Homo sapiens: one gene and its partners. The protein of the gene in region 5 interacts with the protein of the main gene of each other region in a biochemical or structural test. Each region holds a gene or a part of one and is shown on either strand. Other genes may lie near its edges.

Region 1 (3,500 bases), on a different chromosome or scaffold from region 5:
AATAGTGTAAGTTAGAAAACTTGTACACACTTTTTCAGTGTAAACCCCTCTTTTTACAAATGAGGAGAAAGACTAAGGCGATGCTGCTAATTGGCCAAGCTGAGACCAGACTCCTGGTCTTCAGCCTCCTCCTGTGCTTAGAGAAGATGCTTCTCTAGACCTTTGTTACCCAGCGTCCAAATCATTTTTGCACCCAAACAGGTCTCATGGATGCTGCTTAGCTGGGGAGTAAATCTTCAGATGCCACAGTTGCTTTGCATTTATGCAATAAACGTGTGCAATGCTAAGAAAAAAATTGGTGCAGCTGATGTTCAAGCAGTTGTCACGTGGGAGGGAATTCTCTTCTGCCAAAAAGCCAAAAAAAAAAAAAAGAGAGAGAGAGAGAAGATGCTTCTCTAAGCACCCTCATCACCCTGGATGGCGAGGACAGAAACAAGCATGAGATGGAGAAGACAAAAAAGTCAACACTTTGGCTTATGTGGGTGTCTCATGTCCAAAAAATCACTTTAAAACTATGGTTCTGCTTGATTCTAGAGAGTTCTATTCTTCATAGAGCGAGTGACCACTTCTCCAACTTCCCACCCTCCCCAAACTGGCAACCCGGCCAGGACCTGTAGGCTCTCACTTCCTTTCACCCAAAGCTTGCCAGGGCAGGGCAGGGCAGGTTGAGAGACACAGAATAAAGGAAAAATTAGGGAGGAGAGGGACTGTTCAGGCCAAGGCAGCAGAAGAACAAGAAATCCCAAAGAGACCAGGCTTGAATCAAGGCTGAATCCAGTTCACATCAACTCTGACCCTGCTTGGCTGTATTTCTAGATAACTTTGACATCAGTTAAGCCTTTTTCATTTGGGGTTATGTATTCCTAAAAGAAAAACTACGCTTTTAGGTAAATACCAAGTAAATTACACTTTAATTTTTTTCTTTTGAAAACAAAATTCTTTTGAAATCAGCAGTTTTTGCCAAACTAATACAATGTTACCGCAAAAATTAAAATACAAAAAAGTAACAGATGGATATTAGAATCACCTGAAACCTCACCATGTAGAGATAATTATACTAATAATTTGTTCAATATTCTTCTGGGTATTTTTTAATCTATCTAAACGAACATAGATGTCACACACACACACGTGATTACAATTTTACCTTCATGAGATTATTCTCCACATGTTCTTTTGTAACCTGCTTTGTTCACTGACATTTAACATAATGCTATGGACATTTTTCTCTGTTGATAAATGTGGCTGTCTATCCTAAAGATGATGACTGCCAAGTATTCTATTGTATGTATATATCATACTTTTAAAGAGCCTCTTATTATCGTATAATTAATTTGTCCCCAATTCTTTGTCATTATAAAAATTCCTAAAATATTTTACATTCCCACTAAATGCCGAAAAAGAGCATTTTGGGGACAAAGAAAATATGCATTCCATATTTGAATACATATTGACTAACTGCATTCTATAATAGACCAGCCAAAATTAGACTCCCACTGACAAAGGCATCATGTTTTAAATTTCAACTTGCCCTCTCGTCTTCATGTTAGCTTCATAGGCAATGAATTATGGTTAAAACATATCCTGGGTATGAAGATGGCACATGGGGAATTCAAAAGCACAATAAAGCTGTGGCAGAAAATGTAGATTTCTCCCCACCACCCCTCACCCCAGCCTTTCCTCTTTGAAAACAATGCAAAATTTGAATAGATTTCCAATGAGCATTTATCCTAATGTCAATAATTTAGGATTCCTATCAATTCAAACAAAAAGCATGTCCTTTTGGCTTGGAATACAGGAGACAAAGAATTTGGCTTCCAGGGCTGGGCTCGGTGGCTCACGCCTGTAATTCCAGCAATTTGAGAGGCCGAGGCAGGCGGACCACCCAAGGTCAGGAGTTCAAGAGCAGCCTGACAAACATAGTGAAATTCCATCTCTACTAAAAATACAAAATTAGCCAGGTGTGGTGGTACATGCCTGTAATCCCAGCTACTTGGGAGGCTGAGGCAGAAGAATCGCTTGAGCCTGGGAGGCAGAGGTTGCAGTGAGCCGAGATCTCGCCATTACACTCCCACCCGGCAACAAGAGCAAAACTCCATTGAAAAAAAAAAAAAAAAAAGAATTTGGTGTCCAAAACAACTAACCATGTAAAAAAAACTTGCTCCAAACAACAGCACTTTTGCCAAACTAAAGGCAACACCTGGGCTACCAAGGCAACATCTTTAATCTACAATGTATAGAGTTTTAATTTCTTTTTTCTGAATACTATAGAAATGTATTTTTGAAGACTCAGAGTATCTCCTCTTTCAGGAAGCTTTCCCCTCCCCCCTACCCTCTTTGGCAATTGCATGGACCTCCTTGATGCCCCTCCATGGGATTTACTGTAACGGTGTAACAAAGTTCATGACACTTCCTGTATCTATGCCTGTTTCTGCTCCTGAATGATGAGTAACTTGAGAGTAAGGATGGTGTCTTTTCAGATGACACATAGTAGCCATGCAACAAGTGTCTGTTTACTAAATGAGGGAAAGTACCTAAAGTACTTGAAACAGAGTTGGTGTGTACAATCCTTGTGCGTCCTGAGCTTATCCAAGAGAGTAAGTTATCGTTTGGACATTAAAAAAAAAAAAAAAAAAAAAAAAAATCCCTGTGATGAAGTGTGTCCTTGTGTGACCCTGAGGTTAGGCTTCTCAAGAGTTAACTACAAGCAAGATGGCACTTTTCTCTAAACTATAGGATGTACCAGATTGATGAGTTCATCTATACTCCTTCAGTGTGTTCTTTCTGATTCTCATGAGTAGCCCACGTGTATTTCCCAAATCATTTGAGTAGATGTCTTCCCTGACCTGTCACTGTAACAAAAGCTCCCAAATCCAATTCTCTAAGAACTCAGGTTTAAGATCCATCATATCTAGGAAAGCTGAACATTCCTTACTCCCCATGGAAACTTTGTGGTTACAACGCATAGAAAAGAAAAAGGATTAGAAGAACTGAAGATGGTTTTTCTGTCTCACTACTAAATCTACAAGAACCTCATTTGCTTGACTAAGTAATCCAACATTACAGTAGTAGTGAATATTCCTTCTTATTTTAAGTAGCCAGCACTGACAAATGAAGGCTGTGTTCCAAATTATGGGCTACTGTCTTCTGTGTCTTAAGCTAAGTGCATTTATTCTTTCACTAAGGTTACAGAGCAGCAACTCACAGTACAATTAACATCTCAGTCTTTGTTTCTTCACAACTTCACTATAATTATTCCGCCAACCCTTGCTTAAATGGAAATGAGTCATATCCATCTCCTATTTCTCTAAAAATAAACCCATCTCCTAATTAAGCATAACACTTTCAAGTCCTGTATGAATTGACATAGCTCAACGAATCCTTCTTAGAATATTAAAATGAACTCATGTCATTATAATTTTAAAGAGTATATTGTTTTACCCTTCCTTGAGGAGTAACTCGCTACTATCTCCTGAAAAAGAGAAAGACTAGAAGATGTT
Region 2 (3,500 bases), on a different chromosome or scaffold from region 5:
TAAATAGCTGAAAATAGGAGTTCATTAATTAAATTATGTTACCACCATATAGGGGACTGTTGTGTGGACATAAGAAATAACATGGATAAATATAATATACTGTTGGCCGGGCATGGTGGCTCACGCCTGTAATCCCAGCACTTTGGGAGCCCAAGTTGGGTGGATCACCTGAAGTCAGGAGTTTGAGACCAGCCTGGCCAACATGGAGAAACATCGTCTCTACTAAAAATACAAAAAAACTAGCCAGGCATGGTGGTGTGTGCCTGTAATCCCAGCAACTCGGGAGGCTGAGACAGGAGAATTGCTTGAACCTGGGAGTTGGAAGTTGCAGTGAGCTGAGATCGTGCCACTGCGCTCCAGCCTGGGCAACAGAGAGAGACTCCGTCTCAAAAAAAAAAAAAAAAAAAAAATATATATATATATATATATATATAAAAAATACTGTTAAGCTTAAAAAAAACCCCATGGATTTCAAAATAGTATGGACAATATGATTCCATTTTTGTTTAATAAGCTAGGTAATAGGTAATTTTCTCTTCCTCCTTCCTTCCTTCCTTTCTTGTCATTGTATTCGTTGCAGTAAAAAAAAAAATACATATATATATATTTCTGGGTGATTAAAAAAGAAGGAAAAACCAGATTGTGGGTTAATTCATTCCTTTCCCTGAAGGAGACTGGGCTCTGGGCTCCCTGCGTGGTGAGGATGAGGAGCAGAATAGAGCTGCAGTCAGCAGGGAGCAGGGCTCATTCTGGGGAGCAGAGACAAATAGAGAACAGTATCTCTTGCTATATGCAGGGCACTGCAACTTACAAATCACAGCGCATGGCGAGGACGAGGGTTGGGGTGGTACCTCTCACCATGTCTCCAGCTGTTCCAACCCGTGGTCAATGGGAGCTCTGATGCAGGCTTTTTGCTGCTGGGCCTTCCACTCCTCCAACTTTGGCAGCAGTAGCTCGATTAGGGTAGTTAATCGGCCTAGCAGTGCTTTGGAGGCATCCAGCACCTCCTGGGAAAGAGATAATGTGAGTGTTGAGCATCTCTCCCTTTCACCCTCCACCACCCAACTGGGGATGAAGAAACAAAGAAGCCAGCGCTAGAGGACCAGGGTCCCCACATCCCTCATTTTTCCAGGTCCTTGTTGCCCACATGTTCTGTCCTCTGTCTCCCACCTTTCTCCTTTTGTCCAGTTCATTGAGAGTTTCCTGCAGAATCTTCTGCTCTTTGGTCTGATGGGGGTCCAGAGAGGGTGTCTTCCCTGGATGGTGGGAACAGGAGTCAGTCCAGGGGTTCTTTCCTCTCCTTCCTGACTGGGGTCTCAGTCAGAGTCAGGAAGGAGGAATTTTGTGGAGGAAGAAAGGGAAACCAAGCAAAGCACAGGCACCTGTGGGACCCTCAGGCAAATTCTGAATGGTCATGCTTGGACCAGACACCCCCTCAAATAAAACACTGTTAGTTTTCCATGCATTTCCTCAACATTTACTGTCTCTCAGCTGCACCTCCAGCTCAGCCTCCACAAAGCACTTCCAGCTTTGCACGGCAGCAGGACTGTAGTCAGTGGGGTGTGTCTGACAGTGACTACTGCTCATCGGAGCTTTCTCCTGTTCACTTCCAGCTCCGGCTTCTCAGCAGGCACTTATCTTTCTCCAGCCCCTCAATGTGCTTCCTACCTTTGGCCTGGATCTTATATCGGAAGCAGAAGACATCCTGCTGGTCTTTCAGTTGGCTGATGGATTTTACCAGCTTCTGCAGAGGGGAGAGGACCCCGATGAGGCTGCTTCTCAGGGAGGTGTTAGGCTGAACGCTGTCAACCCTAACTCCTACCACATCTACTAACCTCCATCATAGCCCTTAAATCCAGGATCCGGGATTCAATCTCATGTTGCTGGCTCTCCACAGGTGTTTCGAGAACTGGCTCTCCTTGTTCCTGAAAAAAGAGGCTCTGAGCACGTTTTAACTCTGGCCTTTCATGCCTTAAGTTCAGGCCTGAAATTATACCACAGGATGTCGGGGGGATCCTGTTCTGAGACAACTCCCTGAGTCCTTTCCATGGTTCCTCTCTACTTCAGGAGTTTCCAACATTACCACTGAATTGTCCTCACCAATTGGGCCCTCTGAGCCTGGATCAAAATTCTTTTTTCTTCCAGAAGGAGGTTAAAGATCATCTCAGCCAACTGGGTAGGATCCTGGGAAAAGGGCTAGAATAGGTAAACAGAAAGGATTGATCCAATTCAACCACTCTCAATGACCTATTGCCCTAGACCCTCCCCACCAATGTCCACAGTATTTCCTCCTCCTTCGGGGTTCTTAGCCCTTTGTCTTTTCACCATAGCATCCTCCCAACAGTGTCACGTATATGCAACCCTTCTCTCTGCTAGTGATTCCCCAAGTCCAGACTCTGTCCTCCTTTCCCCACATTTGTTCCCGTCTCCCTTTCCACCTCCAGGTACTATTCTATTCTCCAAACCTTACTCCTCTATGCTCAGCTCCCAGTGCTACCCCATCACTCCCAACCGTTCCAAGTACCTGAATGTCCCGGCAGAATTTCCGCAAATTGTGCTGCAGCAACAAGGACTCTGGGTCCTGGCTGCAACGGCCACACTCATAGTTCAGCTGATCCAAGAAGTGGAAGAATAGCATGGTAGCCTTGGAATCATCACTCCCAAGTGCAGCTTCCTGCCTGGGCACCAGGAATAAGAAGTATTAGTGTCTCTGCAGTGTTACTGTAGTCCTGAGGCTTTCCAACCCCTTCCTGCCATTAATGATTCCAGGATCCCGGGGGCCCAGAAGTAAGGAACCACCTTTTTCATTCCCCCAACTTCCTGAAGGCCTCACCAGTTCTGGTCTTCAATCCAGACAGCCAAGTACTGTCGAATGTCCACAGGCAGGAGGCTGTGCGAGTAAAGCTGGTGCAGCTGATCCTGAAAGGGGCTGTCAAGATTCTGCAGCATTTCCCACTGCGCCATTTGGGCTCTGCGTCAGAAGGATGAGGGTTCCCAATTGGATATTTTGCTGGACTAAATCATCCATAGTTTCATGATTGTTCATTATTACTAATTTAAAATGTTTAAATTATACAAGTAATAAAAATACAGAAAACATTAAAATATATGTTGATCCTACTGCTAATCTTGGTTCTTTCCCCTCCTCTCCAGAAGTAACCACTGCTATCAGTTTGGTGCATATTCTTCCAGGGAGTGCTACCAGTTGAGTATCTGCTATTCCAAGCATTTTGGATTTCAGATTTGTCCAGATTTTGGAATATCTGCATTACTTACCAGTCGAGCATCCCTAATCCAAAACTCTGAAATCTGAAATGGTCCAAAATCTAACTTTTTGAGCACCCACATGACACTCAAAGGAAATGCTCACTGGAGCATTTTGGAGCCAAATTTTTCAGATTAGGAATGCCTAATCTGTATTTTTTTTTTTTTTTTTTTTTTTTTTTTAAGATGGACTCTCACTCTTTTGCCTGGGCCGGAGTGAAGTGGCATGATCTTGG
Region 3 (2,612 bases), on a different chromosome or scaffold from region 5:
AAGAAAAGTCTAAGAAACTGTCATAGACCAGAGGAGTCTAAGGAGATGTGACAAGTGAATGTAATGTGATATCTTGGATAGTATCCTGGAACAGAAAAAGGATATCCGAAAAACTCATGAAATCCAAATAAAGAAGTTGAGTTCATAGTAATTGTCCACATGGTTTCATTATTGTCACAAGTGTGCCATAGTAATGTAAGATGTTAACAATTGGAGAAAGTGTGGGTCCATAGGAACTCTATTAGGAACTTTTCCATAAATCTAAAACCATTCTAAAATTATTTAAAAAAATCTGTACAGGCCACTTAACCATGTGAAAAGCTACTCAGCCTTGCTGATAATGAGAAGTGGCACTGAGATACTATCTCACCTGTCAGGTTGGCAAAAATCCAAACAGTGACAATATATTCTGTGGACGAGGCTGTGGGGCAAGGTATCCTTGAACATTTATGGGGGTTTAATCTATTTTGCGTTGCTGTAAACGAAGACCCGAGGCTGGGTAATTTATACAGAAAAAGGTTTATTTGGCTCACAGTTCTGATGGCTGGGCATCAAGATTGGGCATCTGCACCTGGTAAGGGCCTGGGGCAGCTTCCACTCAATGGCTGAAGGCAGAAAGTGGGCTGGAGTGTGCAGAGATGACACAGATGAAGTGAGAGCGGGTAGGTGCCAGGCTCTTTAACAACCAGCTCTGGGGGGACTAAGAGAACTCACTCACTGTCCCCACCTCGGGGGACAATATAATAAATATATTAAATATATCAGGATGATTTACATGCACTGCCCTGATATATTTAATAGCACAGGAATATACACAAGAGAGTGACAGATTTGAATGGTCCCAAATGCAGCTGCAATGCTAGCCCACCCTTTTATGGGAAAACTGATTCTGACAGTTTTCCAGACTGTGCACACATTTAAAATTCCACACCCTTGCTTCAGCCAGCTTCCTCCTGGAAGGCAAAGCCAGCCAGGTGAGTGTTTATGAAGGCCCAACTGACCCATCAGCCCAGAAGCCAGGCCCTCCCAGTGCCAATGGTCGCAAGCTGGGGGCAAGTGCTTGGGGAGTGGGCCAGTTGGCATCCGAAACAGGGCCTGGTGGAGCAGCATGGGAGCAACTGGTAGTAGTAAAAGGAAAGAAACAGCTGAGTCTGTTTTTAACATTCATTAATCCAAAAATACATAAAAATTATTTCTGCTCCAGGTTCTTGGACTCTCAAGAAGGGGGTAGCTGCCAGCCTTGAGCATCTGATATGATACCTAAGTGCTCACTCATATTATCTCAGAGGACAGGGAGATGAGGAAGTGAGTCTCAAACCAGGGAAATCAGGGCCATGCCCTGCAGAGGCCCTGTGGGGGGACTTGGCCCACAACACTCTGGCTTTTGTTGCCAGAGGAAATGGGGCAATCACAAGAGTGGGCCACCCTTAGGCAATTCCTCCTATACAGCTAGGCCCCAGGGTTGGGAGAGTTCTTTCCCTGCTCATGGCTGAATTTCCCGAGAGCCAGGCTGACCAGACCAGAGACAGCCCAGGAGAGAAAGGCCCGGGAAGGCAGGGGCTCGGGCCTTTCTCCCTCTCCTTCTTGGCCCAAATCCACTTCCAGGAAACCCAGAGGTAGGACCCTGCAGCCAGCCAGGTGCTCATCGGGGCTGTCACATCTCCACATCAGTCCGCACCGCCACCCAGGAAGCCAGGGCCAGTCACCGTCTGCAGCCTTGTTATTGCATGCCAGCTGGGTGCATAGGCCAGGGCCCCTGGCCAACACCAAGGCCTGCTCCAGGAGGGGCCTGGGCCACAGGCTGCAACCGCTGCTGGGACTGCCAGATGTGATGGAGCTCCTTGAATTGCTCCACCATGCGGTCTTTGAGGTCTGGGTTTGAGATCTGTAGCCGGATACTATCAGCTGACCAAGATAGCTCCCCTGAGAACATCTCCAGCAGCAGTCGAGCTGCTACAGGCACCACCTGGGAGGCAAAGAGGAGATGAGACAGGGAGACCTGTGGCAGGGCTGCCAGATCCAGCTGTGCATGAGGACAGCCATCAGGGGTGAGTAATAGACCGCATTCTCCGGCTCTGAGCCTTGATGGTCTCTGGCCGCCAAGTTCACACTGCTCAGGGAGCCCTGAGCCTCCAGCCTGGGGCAAGGGCCTAGCCCCAGGATTCCCCAGTTTTCAAGCCAAGGCCGACTTTGGGATAGGGGAGATGTACCTGTACAGTAATGAGCTTCTTCTCTCGGGGTTTGCGGTCAGGCCATTCTTCCCCAAAGCAGAAGAAGATCTCGAAGGGTGGTGGGGTGTTGGTCTGGCCCTTTTGGAACAGGATGAGCTCTGCATCAAAATCAAGGTCCCTAGTCAGAGGCTGGAACCATGCCCTGGGCAAGAGGCAGCCAGGAGGATCACAGCTTTGGGCCCTCACCATTGAGAAAATGCTCCAGGCTGAAAAGCTTGGTCTTGACCTCCCGCTGGATGGGGTTGGGGCATGAGTCATGGGCTGAGGCACAAGGCCCGCTCCAGAACACCTTGCACTGACACAGGCGGATGGCATAAAGGTCCTGGCCCTGTAGCTGGAGGATGAGCCCGCGGTCCAGGACATCCAGCAGCTGGTTCGTGT
Region 4 (3,500 bases), on a different chromosome or scaffold from region 5:
CCAAAGTGCTGGGATTACAGGCGTGAGTCACCGCGCCTGGCCGATGCATTTATTTTCAACAAATACATTTATTCATTTATTCAACAAACAGCTTTTTCTGTGTGTCAGGCTCTGGACTAGGCAATAAAGTCTCTTAACAGCAAACAAGTACACCCCTGTTCCTTAATGGAGTTAGAAAAGTGGAAACTCATGTCCCTTGCCCTATTCTCCAGTGTTTAGAGTAAGACAGTTGTTAGTGTACAAATCAAGGGCACATGCATTACTGAGCCATTCCTAAAGTGAGCTTGCCTTGCTTCCTGTAACATGTAGCAGATAGCACTAGGGAAGATGTGAAGTGTTACTCAGTGTCACTGGGAACAATCTGTGTATTTTGGGGGGACCTTGGCACCAGTTTTGCACAGTCTATACAAACTGAAGATACGGCCAGTCTTTCAGAAACATGTTTATTGCTGAACAGATGTACACTTGTAGAGCTAAGCTTCATCTGACCTTAATTTGATCACTTATTGCCCTTTAATTACAGAAGCTGGTTAAGGAAAGAAAGCAGAGTTGAATAACTCAGTGAAAGGATCGGGAATAGTGTAAAAAGTTAGTTAAACCGAGACCCAGGATTGGACAGCAGTCTCATGTAGTGGAAAGGCCTTGGGTTTTGGAATCAGAGAGCCCTAGCCTAATATTTTGTTTCTCAGTTACAATACTGGGCAATTTACTACCAACCCCAGGCCCTTGGTTTTCTGACACAAAATGGAAGTACTAACCCCTTCCTCTTATTCAGTGATCACAATTCAAGTACCTAGAACATTGCCTGAGATATAAGGGTCCTCCCAAATGATTTCTTCCTCTCTTGTAGTTGTGGGTTTGTTACTTGGGCTCTTTCTAATCCAAATGATTTGCCTACACTGTTATTATGGACCTATTGTAAAATGTATTTGAGAAGCAGACAATGAACAACAAAGGCCTGGGATAGCCAAATTGTCCCAGTCCATAGCTTAAAGCTTAGGAGAGCCTTGGAGACCCTTAATAAGAATGTGTTGGCATTTATTTAAAGTGTTTCTAACAAGCAAAGTTATCTGGCTTCTAAACCTGCACTAGATTAGAAACAAGTAGATTATGGGTACTGTGGGAGGCTTAGAGGGGGTGTGGTGGGGGCTGGGGAGTAGGATGTTAGCCTAGTGTCTCTTGTCAGAAAAAACAGATAACAGCTCGGTGAGGATAATAGAGATAATCTACAAGACACAAAAATAGTCAAAGCCTGACTAGCATGTCTGGGGCCATTGAGTGCAGGACCAGACCTGAAAGCATAGTAATGAATGTTCATCAATTAGCCTAAATCATGTTTGGGAAAATCTTTTTAAGAGTGCAATAATCTACGTAATATACTTTAGATTGTCACTCAGGATGATTAAGAAATGTTCTTAAAGGGGTTGAAGATTGTGCTATAGCTTATGGCTTATTTCATGAAAGATCACAGTAGCTGTTATGACCAAGATGTTTTTCATTTGTTTTGCCATTCAGACAGCCATTCAGATTCCAAGCTGAAAGGGTAGCCAGCAGTAAAGAAAGGCTGTTTCAGTGTGGTAGCACCCTATGTCACCCCTTTCTTTGGTGTAAGTAATTTTTTTGTCAGTCTGCAGGAGTATCATATAAATTTTCACTTGTGCTTTGACAGTAGTGTATGCTTTTCACTGTGTTTTGAGATAGAGTATGCTCGAGATTTCTAGGATAAAGCAAGAGTGGATAGTTGGCCAGTCTCTCTGTTGAGGGTTTCTTGACTCTTGTCATGTGACTTCTGCCCAGTATTAGCACTGATAATTTTTTTGATCCCCTTTCTTGTAACCTTACCTCAGGGTTACTTCTTAAACCATCTACACCATCAGATAATTATTGGTGACCTTGTAATATGTAGCCTTGGCTGTTTTTAAGAATCAGGTTTTTTTTTAGCAGTAGTACAAAAGTACTAGCCTTTTTGGTTTAAAAATGCATAGTTAGAGGCTTATTGCTTGTCATTGATCAATTTTGATCATTTTTTCAGGTTGGTGTAATTGTGATGTATTCAGTTAGGACATAATTCAATGTTGATTCTAGATTTACATCTCAAAGATAGCTCGCAGCTTCAGTTCAGCAATTTCATGTAGGGAGAATATAATTTTTCCAAGCCAGGTGGATTTAGACACTGCCTTTAGTTTGGTCAGATAGCCAGAAATATTAGGGCAATTCTGTGTCTTCTGTGCTTGCCTCACATTGTACAGTGTGAGTGGTTCTCCTTGGCTCAGTGGGTTCCTCTTATTTGTAACTGAGGCACATTGATAGGACAGGTGCTTGATGTATCTTTAGGTTTGTAGTCTTAAGAAAATAGAAATTCTGACGTGATTAATTCTTATCAAAGTTTGTGAATTTACTGTGAAATTGTCACTAATTATCCTAGGTAGCCCTGTCATTTTTCAAAATCTGGTTTTACATTGGCCTCAAGGCTGTAGAGTAGTGGAAAGCGAGGATAGACTTTAGTTGCTTCTGTTTAGTACACGTGTCTACCTTAATGTAAAAATTTGCATTTCCTTGAATAATCTACAGTGTCATACCTTCCCTCATTTTGTGGGGAAGGGGGATGTAGTTTCACATTTAATGTATTCAGTAGGAATAATCTTGGGTGAACCACTGGTATTCCATCTGTTCATTAGTTTGAGTCTCTTAAGTCAAAAAAGACTCTTGATCTGAGGAAGTAGCATAGTGAATCTGTGATCTTATAGTTTGCCTATGTTTAAAAGTAAACTACATTTTCATATGCTGCTTCAGCTACTTCCAGAAATTCTGTAGAGACATAATGGTTAAGGTCTTGTAAATATCAAGGAAACGTTCCATCCTCATCACGTCTTTCATTTCAGAATGTGAGGTGGTGAGGCCGGAGGCAGTGGCTCACGCCTGTAATCCCAGCACTTTGGGAGGCTGAGGCGGGCGGATCACTTTGAGGTCAGGAGTTTGAGACCAGCCTGGCCAACATGGTGAAACCTTGTCTCTACTAAAAATGCAAAAATTAGCTGGGTGTGGTGGCGGGTACCTGTAGTCCCAGCTGCTCAAGAGGCTGAGGTAGGAGACTTGCTTGAACCGGGGAGGCCGAGGTTGCAGTTAGCCGAGATCCCGCGACTGCTCTCCAGCCTGGGAGACAGAGCAAGACTCCGTCTCAAAAAAAAAAAAGAAAAAAAAGAAAATGTGGGGTGGCAAATCTTTTTTGCAGAGCCTCCTATATAAAATCCTCATAAATGATGCAGTGGAAGCTGGGCCCGTGAGCCTTCTGCCTTGACTTGAGTGAACTATTGAAACTCTTTTGTTGACTAGAGATACTTTATCTGTGGTAGTAAATGTAAATTTTCCTTATTGAGATCCACTTTTAAAATTCTTTTTTTTTTTTTTTTTGAGACGGAGTTTTGCTCCTGTTGCCCAGGCTGGAGTGCAGTGGTGCGATCTTGGCTCACTGCAACCTCCGCCTCCTAGGTTCAAGCAGT
Region 5 (3,500 bases):
GAGCTAATAGCAAAGCAGTGCTCCACCCCACGCACCAGCCCTCACTAAGGCTGACCCCCAGAGCGAGCTCCTGGGGTGTTGCTGACGAAGGCATGTCCCTGCCCATTGTTGTCCATGAACCAAACACACAAGGGACAGCAGGTCTACATGCCGACACCTCAGCATCCCGCCTCCTAACACATGCATGTCCCCGGTGCACAGGGAAGGCTGCCCCAGCAGGAGCCCCTATCAGGCCTGTCTTCTGGACAACCCCACTGCTGCCATGCCACAGGCAGGTGCCCCCTCCTGGGGTGGAACTCAGCTGCGCAAAGCCTGTCTCGGACGCGGTAACCTCCCGTGTCACCCTTAGGAGATGGAACTCAAGCATTAACTCACCAGACACCAGTGAGACCAGCTACACTCCAGCGGGAGCAAGTCCGAAGACAACAGGCCAGGAGCTCTGCTTAGGAGCCACCTAGGGCGTAAACCCACGCCACCCCCTGCCCGCGCCTCCTCTGTCCTGCGAATGACACTCTGGGGCGCCGTCCAGCAGGTGGCTGCCTCTCAACCACCTGTGCAGTGAGCACGAGTGTGTGTGGCGGAAGCGGCCCAGGCCCCACGCTCCGCCTACAGCCCATCCGGCACCCACCTCACAGACGTGCTCTCATATGGGACAGGCACCAGAGTGGCAGTATGTCCCCAGCCGGCTCCCGGCTGCCTCACCCATGGCAGCAGCCCACGCAAGAGCCACCTCCATTCACCGCTTTTCCTCACTGGTCACAATCGCCTGTCCCAAGTTCTGGGGCTGCAGCCTTCAACGTTCGTCATCGCTCTCCCTGCACCTACAGCTACAGCCCACACCCACGCCACCATCATCTCTTCCCCAGACAGCCGCACAAACCCGCACACAGCGCGCCTCCTCCCACCGCCTGGCGGGTCCTCTTCCAGCACCTTCCTGTGGTGGGCGGGTCTGGCCCACACGCCACCTCCCCAAGGCTCCTTCCCCTTCAGAGCTCTGCCACGCTCAGAGCACACCATGCTTGGGTCTGGGTTCTTTTTGTTTCACATCCTACCAGGACACAGCCACTCCCTTGGGGGCGGAGATGGGGTTTTGTTTGTTCTGAAACGGAGTCTCGCACTGTCTCCTGGGCTGGAGTGCAACGGCGCAATCTAGGCTCACTGCAACCTCCGCCTCCCGGGTTCAAGCGATTCTCCTGCCTCAACCTCCCTCGTAGCTGGGATTACAGGTGCCCCCTCCCACAACCGGCTAAATTTTTGTATTTTTAGTAGAGATGGGGTTTCACTGTGTTAGCCAGGCTGGTCTCCCTTTCCTGACCTTGTGATCCGCCTGCCTCGGCCTCCCAAAGTGCGGGGTTACAGGTGTGAGCCACCGCGCCTGGCCAGGGATGGGGTTTTGTTTGGCTCAGTCTGCACTGCCTGGCACTCAGGGGCAGCGCCAAGGAGAGAGGGCAGCAGGGCATGAGCATCATGTGCAGAGTGGCCACCAAACACGGAATAAGGCCTGGCAACCCTGTGCCTCCTCGACTCACTTTTTACATCAGCGGGTTGTGTCCTGACTGCCCCATGTCCCATTTTCTGTCTTCCTCTCTTCCCTCTCCGAGTCTAAGTGGACCCCCAGCTCCCCAGAGCATCCACTGTGCAGAGAGTGCAGAGCCCACACTGCTGCCCACCAACGCCCTGTGCTGCAGGTGGTGTCGACGTGCATGTGTGAACGGAGACACCACCACAGGAAGGACCTAACAGTCGACACGCGCCTCCCAGCCTGCCACCCTGCAGCTCCAGCGGGACACGTGGGCAATGGAGCTCAGAGAAGGGTCTGTACCTCAGTGGTTTCACTGGCTGCAGTGCTCTCTTCCTTTTTCCTCTCCTCTTCTTCTTGTTCTAGTTCCTTAATGCTCTCTTCTAACACATTGGGCCAGAAATCACCTTCAAAATAGGGCAGTTCCTTGGCACTGGTGAGCCTGTCTTCAGTTGCTTGTTTGAAAATATCCTGAGTGGGCAAAGCACAACAGTGAGATGAGGGCCATGCACGCGTGCCCCCCACCATGGTGCGACAGACCCCCACGCAAGCGTGCCCCTCACCATGGTGTGGCAGAGTCCCATGCATGTGTGCCCCCCCACCACAGTGCAGCAGACCCCCACACATGTGCACCCCCCACCACAGTGCTGGAGCCCCTATGTGTGCAACAGTGATGCACAGGCCCCAATGCCCACTGATGGAAACAGCTCCAACTGTGCTGCTCTCAGACGGCCAGGGGAAAGCCTCAATCAGCTGAAGAAAATGCTTCTAAGTTCTCACTTTAGGCTTTTATTTTTCTGCTTTCTAATCCTCATAAGTGAAGGTAATTAACAAGTATGCGAATGCAAGAAAAAGGCACACAAATATCCTCCCCTCAGTTGTGACAAAAGCCACCACCTTCCTTCAGCGCCGGGTACCTTGTAGTCATGGATGATCCGCTCTGCAAACGCCTTGTCCAGCATCTTTTTGTACCACTCCTGCAGTCGTTTTGGCTTGGGTATTTTTTGATCAGGTGGGTGGCAATGGAAGATGTAATCATCTCCTTCACTTGGAGGACAGGCCCAGATGTGCCCTGTCACATACCTGCAGGACCCACGCACACACGTCAGATGAACGTGCCAGTGAAATCGGCCCTGCCTTTAAGGAGTTATAGCAGAGGAGCAAGGACTAAAGCCAGGACAGAAGTAACCAGAGAGAGAGAATGAATGCCCACAAAGCTGGGTGTGGTGGGGGCAAGGCTCGAACTTTATCCTGAGCAAATGCAAGCCTGCAAATTAGCCCTGCAACACTTCTCCCTTGGGGTGCACACACAGGGCAGGGCCGAGGCTGCAAAAGAAACCTGAGGCCTCATTAAAGAACCAGGGAATATGATGGCTCATCAAGGCAATGCCATCCCCTTCCTCCTGTGCACTGTAAAGGCAGTTCGGTTGACTATTTTTCTCCAAGGGTCAATGTCAACATAAACCTCATTCATTCTGTTCAAGACACTTTGATCAAATGCCCCTATCCTTTTCAAGTTTCAGAAGGGAATGGGGCAGGTCTAGAGTACAGAAACCAAGGGCTAGAGAAGGAAGCCAGACCCAAGACAGCATACGCTGCAGGGTTCCGTTTACACAAAGGATTCACAAAAGACAAATTCAGAGAGACAAAGTAGATTAGTGGTCGCCTGGGGCAGGGAAGGTTTAACAGCAAGGGGCAGGAGGAACATTTTTTTTCTTTTTTCTTTTTTTTTTTTTGCGGGCGGGGGGCAGAGTTTCATTGTTGTTGCCCAGGGTGGAGTGCAATGGCATGATCTCGACTCAGCGCATCCTCTGTCTCCCTGGTTCGAGTGGCTCTCCTGCCCCCACCTCCTGAGGAGCTGGGATTACGCTAGGCACCCGCCACCACGCCTGGCTCATTTTTTGTATTTTTAGTACAGACAGGGTTTCACCATGTTGGTCAGGCTGGTCTTGAACTCCTGATCTCAGGTGATCCACCTGCC
Region 6 (3,500 bases), on a different chromosome or scaffold from region 5:
AGTCTCACTCCCACAGGCTGGAGTGCAGTGGTGTGATCTCGACTCACTGCAACCTCTGCCTCCCGGGCTCAAGGGATTCTCCTGCCTCAGGCTTCCGAGTATCTGGGATTACAGGCATGTGCCACTATGCCCAGCTAATATTTTTATTTTTTGTATTTTTAGTAGAGACAGGGTTTCACCATATTGGCTAGGCTGGTCTTGAACTCCTAACCTCAAGTAATCTGCCCGCCTCCGCCTCCCAAAGTGCTGGGATTACAGGTGTGAGCCACCGCACCTGGCCCTCTTTTCTTTTTTAACTCAACATGTTTTAAACATTGGTCTCCCTGCTATTTTAAGTTTTGAATCAAGACTTTCTCTGTATTTGGTGAGATTTCTACTGATCAATGGCCAGTTTCTGTACAATATGATAGCGTGTAAATATATATCAATTTCTCACTTGTTTAAAAACAGACCCCGCCCCCTCAACAATCCTCAACATCCAAAATACATTCCATTTGGATGTAGGAAAATTTACAGTAGAATTCACAGGGTTTATGTGAGTAAAGGCTCCCCCCTTTCATTAAGGCTGCCATATCTCTTAGCTCTGTAAGGTGAGCTCAGAAGACGTGGGAATTCTTGCTGTCCTACATATCTGAGTCAACATGGACTCCCGTGATGAATACAGCCAGCAATAGCAAACAATTTAGTGACTAAGGCTACTACCTTGTGGCTATACTTGATGCTATACACACACACACACACACACACACACACTCACATAAAGTGGGATAAAAATCTATAATCACTGCCATATATCTGACTCACTTGAGTGGCATTTTGAGGCAAGGTACTCTATGTCATTTCAAGTGGCAACCCTAAGGTTGAAGAACACCCACGTGACTTTCCCAATCAGTCTTCCCGGCCACAGCTCATCCTGGACAAGGAGAAGTAAGACGTTCAGCTGGTACCTTTGATCATTTGCTCCAGATGTTCCCAGAGAATGTCACCCACAAAGTCAGGTGCCAGCTCCAGAAAGCGTTCCTTGCCAAGGTTACACAGCATCTGGCCATTCATGCCGAACCTCTGCAGATTCACGTTCACCAGACTGAACTCATTGGTGGCCCAGAGAAGCCACTGGCATACCTGTTGCTCACTCCACAGCCAGGGGTCTACCAGGAGAGAAGAAAAAATGGAACACATGAGGTAAAAACAGTGGAAAGGTAGTGAGACCACTGTCATCCCTAATTTATGCACCAAGTACCGACATACACCAGAACCCACGAATGAGCAAGATACCATGATGACACGTCACCATTCTGACACGACCCAGGCACATTTCAAGACACCAGTAATGCGTCCTTCTACTACATATTTAATGAGTTCTGGATCAAGTCTTGGGTTGATTGGGGTGAAACAGAAACTGGCTCAGGTTAACGACATCCATGCTACTCTTTGCAGAATACCCCAAGCAAAAGCTTAATAAACAAGTCAAGATCAAACAACTGCACTGAAGTTGGTTCTTCTCACCCAGTGCAGGCTCAGGAAAGCAGTACTTACTCTTTGGAATGCCCAGGCGCCGCTGTTCCTTTTTGAAGCCACTGAAGGTAGCTTTTAAGGCTTGACTCATCACAGCCTTGCTGCACGGGGTTAACAAAGGCAATTCACAGTTGGCGGAGTCTGGAAGGAAACCCCCCATGGGGACATTAGGACTTCAAGTTGGTGATATCAGGTGGAGATTTAGGAGAGACATCTTAGTTTTTGGAAAAGAACAATTTTGATCTCAAACCTTGGCATGATTCCTTAAAACAGTGTAACTATTAACAAAAAACTTTTCTGACTATAATTGAGAAAATATATATCTCAGAACTATACTTATTAAAAAAATCTAAAATAAAACTCAGATTTGATTCTATTTTGCAAAGCGTCACAAAGCAGTTGTGCGTAGGGAAAACTGCTAAGTCTATTTTAAAATTGTAGGCAATGAAAACAGTTGCATGGTTTCTGGTCAAAAGGCTGAAGGGACTGTATCATTTGGAAGTCACTTCCATTAAACTAGGCGTAGAGCTGAGAAGTGAGTGTGATATGAATGTGCCGCACTTAGCACGGTAATGGAACCACACCTTCCATTTTTATTGAAAAACAATCTTCTCCAGACACCCTCAGCAATTTCAAGAATGATAAATGGCTGCCATGCAGGGTTATGCTTACGCCAGTGTATGCGTTTTAATTAATTTTCTGGCCTGTATTCTCAGCACCTACTTCACATGACACAGTCATCTCTGGCATGTTTCCAACTAATAGCTCTGTCACAGTAATTGTATGAACATTATCTGACGTGCTATTCCTTTAAGAAGAATAAACAATGACACGAAGAACTACAGAAAGAACTACCGATGGGTAAGGATTACAAAGAACAATTTGTTGCCCCAAAACTCAGGGCAGGGGAGATGATTTAACTAATGATGCAAACCCAAATTACAAGTTTGGGTGTGTTTTAATGTCTACTCTTCTGTCTGTTTTCCAGGGCAGAGCAGGGAGATGAGGACCTGCTTGCCAATGTTGAAAACATCCAGGAGGGGCAGCTCAGGGGTTCCCCTGCAGTTTCCTAACAGCGGCTCACTGGGGGGCGTCTGGCACTCAAGACATCAGAATCCACATCAGAATCACCAAGTTGATACAAATGAAAAACTGCCTTCTCCCAGGTCCAGAACTTCTGGCTATTCATATCAAAGATTCCAGATACCAACATTTCTCACTTAGGAACTGTCATCTCTTTATTAACTGAACTACTTAGGAAAATCATGCACAATTTGTCAAGTCTGAGGAACCAATTACCATGAGAAATGGAATCCAAGCCTGTTGGCACTTCTTGCAGTGTTTGCTCTTCATTTAGAGAAGGAAAAACAGCAAACAGGGACCCATCAAAGGTGTCAAAGGCTGGCTGGCGCTGCAAAAACAGATGGAAAAAAAATGGAAATACAATATTTAAACTGATTGAATTACCTGTTGTAAAAGTGGTCTGTGGGCAATCCTACCAATAGTCCCTGATTAAACTGGCAATTTTGAAGCAAACATGGAATCAACCAGTCAGTCCTTAAAACAGACTCGTAAAATGGTCAAAGTGACTGAAATGATTGTATTTTACTGTGGATTATTATTATTATTATTTTGAGACAGGTCTTACTCTGTCACACAGGCCAGAGTGCAGTGGTGCAATCTTGGCTCACTGCAACCTCCCCCTCCTGGGTTCAAGCGATTCTCCTGCCTCAGCCTCCCGAGTAGCTGGGACTACAGGCGCCCACCACCACGCCTGGATAATTTTTGCATTTTTAGTACAGACAGGGTTTCACCATGTTGGCCAGGCTGGTCTCAAACTCCTGACCTCGTGTAATCCACCCGCCTTGGCCTCCCAAAGTGCTGGGATTACAGGCGTGAGCCACGGTGCCCGGCCACTGTGGATTTATTTAAGTAACCTCACAGAGTCGGAGTGACTGGGAATTTGTTTTAGTGGCCTAATCCAC
Region 7 (3,500 bases), on a different chromosome or scaffold from region 5:
TATAATATTCTAATTTCTGATTTGTATAATTAAAAATTAGTAATTTTTTAAAAGAAAACACACATAAAAATACCATCACTATTACTACTATTACATTTCTAAGTGCCAAGCAGTAAACATTTTAAATATATTAACTCAGTTACTTGTCACAATAATCCTATTATAGGTAGATTTATTAATACTTTCACCACACAGGAGAAAATTGAAGCACAAATTGGCTAAGTAACAAGATCACACAGTGAGTAAGTCAAATCTGGCGTTCTAGGCTGGGTGTAGTTGTAACTGTAATCCCAACAATTTGGGAGGCTGAGGTGGGAGGATTGCTTGAGGCCAGGAGTTCGAGATCAGCATGGGTAACACAGTGAGACCTCATCTCTACAAAAAATTAAAAATTAGCCGGGTGTGGTGGCGCATGCCTATAGTCCCAGCTACTCCAGAGGCTGAGGTGGGAGGACTGCTTGAGCCCAGGAGTTCAAGTCAAGCCTGGGTAACATAGCAAGACCACATCTCTTTTAAAAAAAAAAAGAAAAAAAGAAAAAGAAGCAAACAGAATTTCCATGTACATGTAGGACCTGATAATTTATACTATTAAGCTTTCCTGGTGATTCTGCCACATAACCAAGTTTGAGAATCAAAATGGAATTAAGCACAGATATTAGAGTCAGAAAGTATTTATTTCAAATCCACACTTTACCAACCACCAGCTATGTGATTCTATAAGCTTCAACTTCCTCATTTGCAAAATAATACCTAAATATAAGATTGCTGTGATAACTGGAAGAATGATCTGTAAAGTACTTAGCACACTACCTGTGGAAGTTTTAAAATATGTCTACTTCTCTTTTTAAGAGCTTAACTCTCCTCCCCTTGAATGTAGGCTGTACTTAGTGACTCACTGTAACAAACAGAATGTGGTGGAAAAGGATGGAGTCTCACTTCCAAGTAAAGATCATAAAAGATACGTCGGTTTTCATCTTGCTCGCTCGTTCACTCTCTCTCTCTCTCTCTCTCTCTCAGATCACTCACTCTTTCTGAGGAAAAGATCTTTCTGGGGAAAGCTAGCTTCCATGTCATGAAAACATTCAAGCTTCCCCATGAAGAGGCCCACATGGCGAAGAACTGATGCTTTTGGCCAACATTCATATAAGTGAGCATGGAAGCAGATACTCCAGCCCCAGTCAAGCCTTTGGATTACTGCAGCTCCGACCAATATCCTGAGATGTCTCAGGAAAGACTCTAAGCTAGAATCACCCAGCTAAGCCACTCCCAAATTCCTAAGTCACAGAAACTATAAGATACTAAATGTTTGCTATTTTAAGCCACTAAATGTTGGGGTAATTTATTTTTTATTATTTATTTATTTATTTAGAGACGGAGTCGCCCAGGCTGGAGTGCAGTGGTATGATCTCAGCTTACCGCAACCTCCGCCTCCCGGGTTCAAGCAATTCTCCTCCCTCGGCCTCCCAAGTAGCTGGGATTACAGGCACCCGCCACCACACCTGGCTAATTTTTGTATTTTTAGTAGAGATGGGGTTTTGCCATGTTGACCGGGCTGGTCTCAAACTCCTGACCTCAGGTAATCCATCCGCCTTGGCCTCCCAAAGTGCTGGGATTATAGGTGTGAGCCACCACGCCCGGCCCTAGCTGACTTTTGTTAACTGAAATGAAATAGTTTTTTGATTGTGGTAAAACACACATAGCATAAAATTTACCACCTTAACCATTTTTAAGTGTACAGTTTAGTGGCATCAAGATGCTTTCCTTTTTTTTCAGACAGGGTCTTGCTCTTGTCACCCAGGCTGGAGTACAGTGGTATGATCTCAGCTCACTGTAGCCTTGACCTCCTGGGCTCAAGCAATCTTCCCACCTCAGCCTCCCAAGTAACTGGGACTACGGGCATGCACCACCACACATAGCTAGTTTTTATATTTTTTGTAGAGATGGGGTTTTGCCATGTTGCCCAGGCTGGTCTCGAACTCCTGAGCTCAAGCAATCCACCCACCTCAGCCTCTCAAAGTGTTGGAATTACAGTGTGAGCCAACATGCCCAGCCTGGCATCAAATACTTTCACAATGTTTTGCTACTATCACTATACTGCACAAAACTGTTTAATTCTGCAAAGCTGAAACTCCGCACCTATTAAAAATTATTCTCTATTTGCTGGTCCCTTCACCCTCTGGCAAACACCATTCTACTTTCTTTCACTGTGAGTTTGACTACTCTAGGTACCACACATAAGTGGAATGACACAGTATTTGTCTTTTTGTGACTGGCTTATTTCATTTAGCATAATGTCCACAAGATTCATCCATGCTGTGGCATGTGTCAGAGTTTCATTCCTTTTTAAGGCTGCATGATATTCCGTTTCATGAATATACCACATTTTGTTTATACATGTCTCTGCTGGTAGATACTGGGTTGCTTTTACCTTTCAGCTATTGTGAATAATAATGTTATGAATATGAGTGTACAAATTACTCTTTAAGTCCCTGCTTTCAATTCATTTTTGTATATACCCAGAAATGGAATTGCTGGATCATATGGTAATTCTATTTTTAATTTTTTAGGAATCACCGTACTGTTTTCCGTAACAGTTGCACAATTTTACATTCCCACCAACAGTGTGTAAGTGTCCTAGCTGATTTTAACTAAACCTTCTTAATCTTAATGTGATATTATTATTTGAAATAGAATATATTTAATGAGAGAAAAAAATATATGTTCCCAAAAAGATCCTGAGAAGAGTGGATTCCTGGCCTCTTTCCCCATGATGACATCTGGTTGGGCTGTAGAACCAGGGAAATGTAAGTCAAGGAATACACTTACTTCTTCATAATCTGGATTTCATGGCACCATCGTTCTCTGTTTTTGGTACTTAGCTCTAGGCGACAAGACTTAATTGCTATTTTGAGATCAAGTTCCTGCCAAAATAGAAAATCAACAGAAAAAAAAAATTAGGTTCTTGTGAAGATTTATTTGCTACCAAAGAAATAACTTAAGACAACAAAACTTTTTAGCTTTACTAATTAAATATATTTATCCACAGCTCTCTTGAGGCAATGCTTTTTAAAAAGATAAACCATGAGACTATTACACCAATGCTTTAAAACTGACCTTCAAACACACAACAGCATACAAGGGAAAAGTGCCTGAAACTGATTTTATAACAGGTCTTTTCAGAACTCTCTCTCATATATAATGTTAGAAAAAAAAAGATCCTGTCTCCTCAGCAAACCCCTTTCAGAGCTTAATCAAGACAACTAATATGTGCCCCAGCTTCTAGCATAACTAAAATGAAGAAGGTAATTCAGGGCTTCCTGGACTCCAAACAGCAAGAGAAAGTTTTAATATAACCAAGCCTAAAGCAAAAAACTCCAATCCTAATGTATGCATTTCAAATGACATGAAGAAAAAAAATCCTACCAATGAGTGTACTTCTGCTTCCATAGCTACATAATGAACCTAACATCTCTTGCCTGTGACTAGTAATTTAGCCAATT

What was found.
Region 1: the proteins of CREBBP (region 5) and ETS1 form a complex in vitro, tested with the Homo sapiens proteins (3 studies listed by BioGRID, with this or other methods).
Region 2: the proteins of CREBBP (region 5) and STAT2 form a complex in vitro, tested with the Homo sapiens proteins (2 studies listed by BioGRID).
Region 3: the proteins of CREBBP (region 5) and IRF5 form a complex in vitro, tested with the Homo sapiens proteins (2 studies listed by BioGRID and IntAct, with this or other methods).
Region 4: the proteins of CREBBP (region 5) and SMAD2 form a complex in vitro, tested with the Homo sapiens proteins (2 studies listed by BioGRID).
Region 6: the proteins of CREBBP (region 5) and ETS2 form a complex in vitro, tested with the Homo sapiens proteins (2 studies listed by BioGRID, with this or other methods).
Region 7: the proteins of CREBBP (region 5) and CHUK form a complex in vitro, tested with the Homo sapiens proteins (2 studies listed by BioGRID, with this or other methods).

The regions. Positions count from the first base shown.
Region 1 is NC_000011.10:128,577,559-128,581,058, forward strand, and holds part of ETS1 (protein C-ets-1), read right to left. Parts: intron 1-3,500. UniProt on the Homo sapiens protein: Transcription factor. Directly controls the expression of cytokine and chemokine genes in a wide variety of different cellular contexts. May control the differentiation, survival and proliferation of lymphoid cells.
Region 2 is NC_000012.12:56,353,608-56,357,107, forward strand, and holds part of STAT2 (signal transducer and activator of transcription 2), read right to left. Parts: intron 2,972-3,500; 5' UTR 2,965-2,971; coding exon 2,834-2,964; intron 2,679-2,833; coding exon 2,525-2,678; intron 2,197-2,524; coding exon 2,101-2,196; intron 1,926-2,100; coding exon 1,836-1,925; intron 1,745-1,835; coding exon 1,669-1,744; intron 1,257-1,668; coding exon 1,171-1,256; intron 1,008-1,170; coding exon 859-1,007; intron 1-858. UniProt on the Homo sapiens protein: Signal transducer and activator of transcription that mediates signaling by type I interferons (IFN-alpha and IFN-beta).
Region 3 is NC_000007.14:128,947,927-128,950,538, reverse strand, and holds the end of IRF5 (interferon regulatory factor 5), read right to left. Parts: coding exon 2,418-2,612; intron 2,330-2,417; coding exon 2,211-2,329; intron 1,967-2,210; coding exon 1,721-1,966; 3' UTR 501-1,720; downstream 1-500. UniProt on the Homo sapiens protein: Transcription factor that plays a critical role in innate immunity by activating expression of type I interferon (IFN) IFNA and INFB and inflammatory cytokines downstream of endolysosomal toll-like receptors TLR7, TLR8 and TLR9.
Region 4 is NC_000018.10:47,924,160-47,927,659, reverse strand, and holds part of SMAD2 (mothers against decapentaplegic homolog 2), read left to right. Parts: intron 1-3,500. UniProt on the Homo sapiens protein: Receptor-regulated SMAD (R-SMAD) that is an intracellular signal transducer and transcriptional modulator activated by TGF-beta (transforming growth factor) and activin type 1 receptor kinases.
Region 5 is NC_000016.10:3,734,214-3,737,713, forward strand, and holds part of CREBBP (CREB-binding protein), read right to left. Parts: intron 2,603-3,500; coding exon 2,437-2,602; intron 1,991-2,436; coding exon 1,823-1,990; intron 1-1,822. UniProt on the Homo sapiens protein: Acetylates histones, giving a specific tag for transcriptional activation. Mediates acetylation of histone H3 at 'Lys-18' and 'Lys-27' (H3K18ac and H3K27ac, respectively).
Region 6 is NC_000021.9:38,812,429-38,815,928, reverse strand, and holds part of ETS2 (protein C-ets-2), read right to left. Parts: intron 2,927-3,500; coding exon 2,815-2,926; intron 1,657-2,814; coding exon 1,537-1,656; intron 1,149-1,536; coding exon 948-1,148; intron 1-947. UniProt on the Homo sapiens protein: Transcription factor activating transcription. Binds specifically the DNA GGAA/T core motif (Ets-binding site or EBS) in gene promoters and stimulates transcription.
Region 7 is NC_000010.11:100,223,097-100,226,596, forward strand, and holds part of CHUK (inhibitor of nuclear factor kappa-B kinase subunit alpha), read right to left. Parts: intron 2,922-3,500; coding exon 2,827-2,921; intron 1-2,826.